2 linked regions of the Homo sapiens genome follow. The protein of the gene in region 2 interacts with the protein of the main gene of each other region in a biochemical or structural test. Each region holds a gene or a part of one and is shown on either strand. Other genes may lie near its edges. The genes, in order: MFHAS1 and CCDC43.

What was found.
Region 1: the proteins of CCDC43 (region 2) and MFHAS1 form a complex in vitro, tested with the Homo sapiens proteins (one large-scale study listed by BioGRID and IntAct).

The regions. Positions count from the first base shown.
Region 1 is NC_000008.11:8,886,853-8,890,672, forward strand, and holds part of MFHAS1 (malignant fibrous histiocytoma-amplified sequence 1), read right to left. Parts: coding exon 3,209-3,820; intron 1-3,208. UniProt on the Homo sapiens protein: Probable GTP-binding protein. Functions in innate immunity and more specifically the inflammatory response as a regulator of the Toll-like receptor TLR2 and TLR4 signaling pathways.
Region 2 is NC_000017.11:44,679,544-44,683,363, forward strand, and holds part of CCDC43 (coiled-coil domain-containing protein 43), read right to left. Parts: intron 2,596-3,820; coding exon 2,460-2,595; intron 1,101-2,459; coding exon 1,042-1,100; intron 1-1,041.

The sequences.
Region 1 (3,820 bases), on a different chromosome or scaffold from region 2:
TAGTGGCTCACGCTTATAATCCCAGCACTTTGCGAGACTGAGGTGGGTGGATCATCTGAGGTCAGGAGTTCAAGACCAGCCTGGCCAACCTGGCGAAACCCCCGCCTCTACTAAAAATACAAAAATTAGCCAGGTGTGGTGGCGCATGCCTCTAATTCCAGCTACTTGGGAGGCTGAGGCAGGAGAATCGCTTGAATCCAGGAGGCAGAGGTTGCAGTGAGTCAAGATCACTCCACTGCACTCCAGCCTGGGCAACAGAGCAAGACTCCATCTCAAAAACAAACAAACAAACAAAAAAACATGAAAAGGCAAAGGCTGCCAATAGATTCAAAGGGTTTCTGCTGAATTAATATATATTTTAATAATCTAGGGATTCAATGAATCTATTTTTAATGTATGCTCTACTTAAACACTCAACATAATTCTGTTCCCACATTTAGCTTTTATTTCTAACTCATTATTTTAACTTTTACCAAATCTTTCGTAACTGTAACAATTACTAACAAATGATGGCTATCACAGAAAAATACAGAAGAGGAAAATGTTTTTTGCATCTTCTTAATGTAACGAGAAATGTACTATAATCATGTTTTCTACTATTCTATACCCTCTGCTACTTTTGAAAAACAACACAATTCAAAAAAAAACAAAAAGACTATAAGACAAAAATATGTACGTTGGTGTATATATACATATATATTTTATATGTACATATTTTATAATTATATGTATATGTATATATTTTATAATCGTGCTCTAAAAACAACTGATGATTTATTCCTATTCAATCTATAAGATAATTTTACAATTTTTCAATCATTTGTTTTCCACATTGAAAAAAAATCTCTTCCTTATAGCCTGGATTGCAAAACCAGGTGTGCCTCATTTGAAAGGCAAATAGACAACACAAGACAAGGGGCTTGTTTCTGCATCTCAGTACAAGCTTGTCTGTGGAATTTATGACTGGTAAAAATTAAACATAAAGAGCTGACGTTAGCAAAAAAAACAAAAAAAAAAAAAAAAAAACCTCCAGCCTCGCCCCTAACTCCTCAAAGTTCTTAGAAGATCTTTACTTGCTCAATAACCTATGTCTCTCCTTTTGTTGTTAATAACATTCGTTTTTATTACTTTGGATTAAGAATGGCTTCAGGTTGCTCCTTCAGTAAACTACCCTGTAAATGCGTAACTCCCAGTCACTTTATTCCATTTGGTATCACAATAAAGAAGTATCTTGCTTCCATGAATAACACACAATGACAAATATAAAACAAACTGAAGAGTCTACCAAGTCATGGAGTGTGACAAGATTCCAGATAAACATACAGAATGGATGTCTCAGTTGACTGGTAACTGAATACGCTGGCTTTTTTCATGCTTAAGAATTAAATTCAACCTAGATCCAGGGCAACGGAAAGATGTCACCTTCGGAAATATTGGTATTCAATTCCTTCCTGATACTATTACCAGCTGCATTCTTGTTGTCCCTCTCTGACCAGGACAAAGATCAGAGTGGGACGCAGTCTTCCATTTCATCACCCCTCCGGGTCCCCTGGGGGTGGGGACCCAGGTGAGAAACGTGCAAGGATGCTATTGTTCTGTCTGGTTTGTGCTTAGGACACTTGGAATGTTGTTAACCACCTGCTCCACAAAAAAACAAAAAACAAAACACACACACACACACACACACAAAAACAGTTGTTTAAAGAACTACAAAGGATGAGGAAATGGACACGTTCCCAACTAAAAACTAGTTTGATACCAATTAACCAGGCTCAAAAGAAAAAAATCCCATATAAGTAAAACGCAAAACTTATGGAGACAGTAAAAAGATCTGTGGTTGCCGGGGTTGGGGGGAATGAATTGGCAGAGCACAGAGGATTTTTAAAGCAGTAGAACTACTCTGTATGATACTATAATGGGGGATACAGGTCATTGGACATTTGTCCAAACCCACAGAATGCCCAACACAGAGTAAACCCTGTGTAAACTATGACCTTTGGCTGGTACTGATGTGTCACTGCAGGTTTATCAACTGAAACAAATGTACTGCTCTGGTGGGAGATGTTGACGTTGGTGAAGCTACGCATGTGGGGAAGGGGATATATGGGAAATCTCTGTACCTTCTGTTCAGTTTTGCTATAAACTTAAAACTGCTCTAAGAAAAAAAAAAAAGTCTTCAAAAAAAAAAAAAACAAAAAACCCCAGACAACTAGTCCTGGAATTCTTCCACTTGCTTATGATGGTTTAAAAAAAGAAAACGAAAAAAAAGTCTACTGGAAAACACTCTCCAGAAAACTCTTAGCTTTCTGTCCCTTCCGTCTCAATTATTAAGCACTGCCAGAAAGCTTCATTTGCTTAACACTTACCAAAAAACAAACCTTAAGACGTCTATAAAACTCGAAACTGCCAGGAAATTCCCGAGGAAACGCCCCTCAAAGATTTCAGTCATCTATCTTCCATGTCCCTGAGTGGGCGGAGGGGAGCAGCAGCCCCAGGATTTAGTCATGCATTACAGTCTGAAATTTCTGTCTTTACTCATCCATTGTTCACTCCAATTACAAAAGATTTTCTCTGGAATTTCTTAAGAAAAGTGAGCAGTAATTTTTACTTTCTAATTACATTCTGAATGTAAGCAGAGTGCTTAAATGCTTGAGGGGATGGATACCGCATTTTACAATCTGATTTCTATGCATTGCATGCCTGTATCAAAACATCTCATGCACCCCACAAATATACAAACCTATGTACTCACGAAAATTTAAGTTTTTTAAAAAATTGTGACACTGGACACTTGAAACTCAAACTCATCTACCCCTTTGAGACGTGTCTAATGAACACTTTAGCCAACGATCAGTAAGAGGCTAACATCGGACACTGTCCAGAATCTATCTGTTCAACCACCTGAAATTTCCTTCCACCAAATGTGGGCTACATCGACAAGAGGGGAAAGGAGATGGCAAATGTTGTGACTGGAACCCATTTTGGAAGTCTGAGTCTGTTAGGAGAGGATGACACTTGTGACTGCATTTCATAAGGCTCAGGTACTTACTACCTTTTGCTCATCTCCAAATCTCCCTGTGTTTCCCTTACGAAGCTTTCCTGGAGAACCCGTGAAGTTAAACAAACATTCTGCCAAATGACAACCAAGTATCTCCAAAAACATATCTTACAGCATACCACAGAAGAACTTCTCCCTCTCTCCACTTACCTGGAAAAGCATGTGGATTGGGCGATCCTCTCTTAAGGCACTTAGAACAGAGAATGTGCACGGTGTAGTGCAGTCCAGGCCATTCCTGAAGTAGGACATTCAGTTCCTCCACCAAGGGGGTTATGGCTTGCCATGCGGTCCATATATTTGGTAATGATGCATGGCTAGCAATGGACAGGGTGTCTGGCTGCAGGACTCCCCTGGCAGGTCTGTAACTCACAACCACAGGAACTTTCCCTCTATAGGCAAAGATCTGAAATTTACCATCCGACCTGTGCACCACATGGCTGTTGATCTGGACACTGTAGCGTGCAAACAACCCAAGTGGAAAAGTAAAAGGAAAGCTATATTCAATCTGCAACTGCTCAGCCACAAAAGACTGCCCAGCTAGGTTGGTCCCATTAATCCAGGCTTCTGCATGGGGCACCTCGTTCTGCACATAGCATGGGAACTTGTACCAAGCTGTGGACCCATTCAAAGGCTTGCCCTTGGGTTTATTGAGGCAGTAACAGAGTCCCATCTTCTCCAGCAGCTCCAGCAACAGCTGCAAGTCCTGCTGGGCCTGGACATGAGGCTTAAGCAGCAACCGAATGACATGAGCTGGCAAGAGCC
Region 2 (3,820 bases):
AAGCTGAAGTGAAAACCACATTCTAATAACCATACACACTGAATCTATAAGAGATAGAAAATGAGTTTAGGCTGGGCGCAGTGGCTCATGCCTGTAATCCCAGCACTTGGGAGACTGAGGCAGGTAGATCATGAGGTCAGGAGATCGAGACCATCCTGGCTAACAGGTGAAACCCCGTCTCTACTAAAAATACAAAAAATTAGCCGGGCATGGTGGCACACACACCTGTAGTCCCAGCTACTCGGGAGGCTAAGGCAGGAGAATCACTTTAACCCAGGAGGCGGAGGCTGCAGTGAGCCGAGATCGCACCACTGCACTCCAGCCTGGGCAACAGAGCGAGACTCTGTCCCAAAAAAAAGAAAAAAAAAAGTGTTTGGTGTTTGTATTCTCTGACAAATTATAAGGTTTTTGAGGAAAAAGAGAAAATTTCAACATTATTTTATTATTTTTTGAGACACAGTCTCACTCTCATATCCCAGGCCAGAGTGCAGTGGCAAGATCTCGGCTCACTGCAGCCTTGACTTCCTGGGCTCAGGTGATTCTCCCACCTCAGCCTCCTGAGTATCTGGGACTATGACTATAGGCACATGCCACTACACCTGGCTAGTGTTTTGTATTTTTTTTAGTAGAGACAGGGTTTTGCCATGTTGCCCAGGCTGGTCTCAAACTCCTGGGCTCAAACGATCCACCTGTCTCGGCTTCCCAAAGTGCCAGGACTACAGGTGTAAGCCATCACGCCTGACCTCAATATTATTTTAATTTTCTCCCTAATGCTGGGCAACTCAGAGTATAGATTTTTATTTTTCCCTTAGAAATCCTTCCTCCAAACTAATCCCTTTACAGTACTTGTTAACTTGTTTTCTCTGGGGAAAGTTCTTGCTAAACTGACTATCTAGGGCTGTCCTAGGAATAGGGCTCCCAATGTTAGCATGACATGAGTTCCTGAAGGTAAAGGGGAGCCGCCAGCAATGACAGCAAAATAAAAACTGATCTCAAGAGGACTCTATGGAGAAACACATAGGGAGGGACCCAGAAGGATACGTTTGTCAGAACCAATGTTCATTGTGGTAGCACCTGAATCATCCTTCTCATCTGCTTCAGTAAGTGATGTTAAGGAAAGTCAGATGGAAAACAACATCCCAACCTAACATTAGAAAACATTCAATAGACTGGTAAGTAGGAAAAGCACACTGAATGGAGGGAGCACATTATCAGGGATATGGCGATAAACCCAGGAGATTCATCTTTGGAAACCTCAACTTAGGAAAGATTGATATATCTTCTATAAGATCCTTTTCTTGGAGGCTGAAAAGAAACTTAAGTTGGTCTGGGTGGATTGCCACATTACCTGGAAGCCAGATGACCTTTAAACAGTGGTTCTCAAAGTGTGGTTCACAAAACCCCCAGGAATATATTAGAAATACACATTCTTGGGACCTATGCCAAACCTACTAAATTGTGGGTGAAGCCCAGCAATCTGTGTTTTAACAAGTCCTCCAGGAGAACCACTGCTTTAAAAGTCCTTTTCTAGCCCAAGATGAGAAATTATGTCACCGGAACCATAGCTCTGCCAACCCTGGCAAGAAAACTCGTAAAAAAAAAATTAGAAGAGAGGCCAGGCGCGGTGGCTCACGCTTGTAATCCCAGCACTTTGGGAGGGTGAGGCAGGCAGATCATGAGGTCAGGAGATCGAGACCAGCCTGGCTAACATGGTGAAACACTGTCTCTACTAAAAATACGAAAAATTAGCTGGGCGTGGTGGCACGTGCCTATAGTCCCAGCTACTCGGGAGGCTGAGGCAGGAGAATGGCTTGAACCCGGGAGGCAGAGGTTGCAGTGAGCCGAGATTGTACCACTGCACTCCAGCCTAAGCGACGAAGCGAGACTCTGTCCAGAATTATTCTGGTATTGCTTTGGAGGTTCAGCCTTACTTTTAACTACCTGGTCACATAAGAAAGAAAAGATGCAAGCTGCTCTAAATTTAGAGAATCTTTCACCCAAAAATACCCAGGTTCTAGTCCTGGTTTTGCCACTAATCTTCTGAATGCCTCTGATCACCCATTCATCTGTTGGTGTCTCAGTTTCCTTATTGACTGGGAAAGAACATAAAGATGGATTATACTTTATACTACACTGTATAGAAAAGTATTATACAAATATAAAGAATTACAGCTATATTGTATTTTCTGAAAGCATAATATAAATGGACTATTAAGACATTATTTGTTTTACACCAAAGTTTTCAGGAATATAATGATTATGTGTTGAAAAATATAAGTCCAGTATCAACTAATCCAATATCACTCCGCATATCCACAAAGGGCCATAGATTACTGCCATTTTAGAGGGGAAAATTAAGCTATAGAGGGGGATTAGCAACTTGCCAAAGGTCACTGTAAACCCACAAATATGTCTGGCTTGAGCTTTAGGGAATGGTGCCGAGACTCCAGAAAGGATATTCCTCTTCATCTGTCACATCAGCATACTGGGCCAGGAGGGCAGCTTTTCTCTGCTTCTCCTCTTCTGACACCATCCTTGGCTTTACTACGATTTGTGCCTGCTTCTCAATTAGGGTGGCAATGGCCTGTACTTCATCTGGGAGGTGGTGGAAGGAAGAACAAGGTTGTATGAGAGAGAACAAGCTCACTGAACCACTAGTCCACATAGGCAGCACTTGTACTGAAGACATTGGCATCTGCTGCCTCCTTAGAGCCTGGCAGTTCAAAGGACATGGCTCGGGGGCCATTGAGAAAGGAAAGGAAAGGCCATGCAGGCCAAGCTTTGTATCCATCTTCAATCAGAGCAGCCCTGATTTTACTTGTTTTATATACTGAAGTTCTGCTGCCTTAAAAAAAAAAAAAAAAAAAAAAGGTTGAAAAGCACTGCATTAGAACCACAGAAAACTAAGCCTCTGAACACTCAACTTCCCCATGGCATCCCAAAAACCTAAGCAGGAATCTAAAATCAACTTAAGCTGGTCCTGTTTATGTTTCTGATTATGCCAGGTGGAATTCTTAGATTAAGAATATTTTGGCCGGGCGCGGTGGCTCACGCCTGTAATCCCAACACTTTGGGAGGCCAAGGCAGGTGGATCATGAGGTCAGGAGATCGAGACCATCCCGGCTAACACAGTGAAACCCCGTCTCTACTAAAAATACAAAAATTAGCCAGGCGTGGTGACGGGCGCCTGTAGTCCCAGCTACTCGGGAGGCTGAGGCAGGAGAATGGCGTGAACCCGGGGAGGCGGAGCTTGCAGTGAGCCGAGATCACGCCACTGCACTCCAGCCTGGGCGACAGAGCAAAACTCCGTCTCAAAAAAAAAAATATTTTGCCATGCTATAAAATAAAATCAACTAGTAAGTTCTCCAGTCTCAAGAAAAGGAAACAATGGTGTAAAATAGTAGTTCTCACACTTGGTTGCACATTAGAATCACCTACAGGAGCTTTTAAAAAATACAAATGCCTGGGCCCCAACCCAGGTACATTAAGTGATTCTAATATACAGCCAAAACTGAGAACCAACAGTGTACAGAGTTCAGAATCTTTCCAAATTTGGCTTTTATGATTTGAGTTTTCTGTACCTAATTTACCATCCTAGTGGTGGGTATATTCGCCCATTTCTCTTCCATTTTAAAGGGTAAAGTGTTTAGCTGAATAAAGCCAAATACCAACCATAATTTGTGTTATGAAATGACAACATGAGGCAGGGTGCTGTAGCTCATGCCTGTAATCCCAGCACTTTGGGAGGCTGAGGTGGGCAGATCACATGAGGTCAGGAGTTCGAGACCAGCCTGGTCAACATGGTGAAATCCCCATCTCT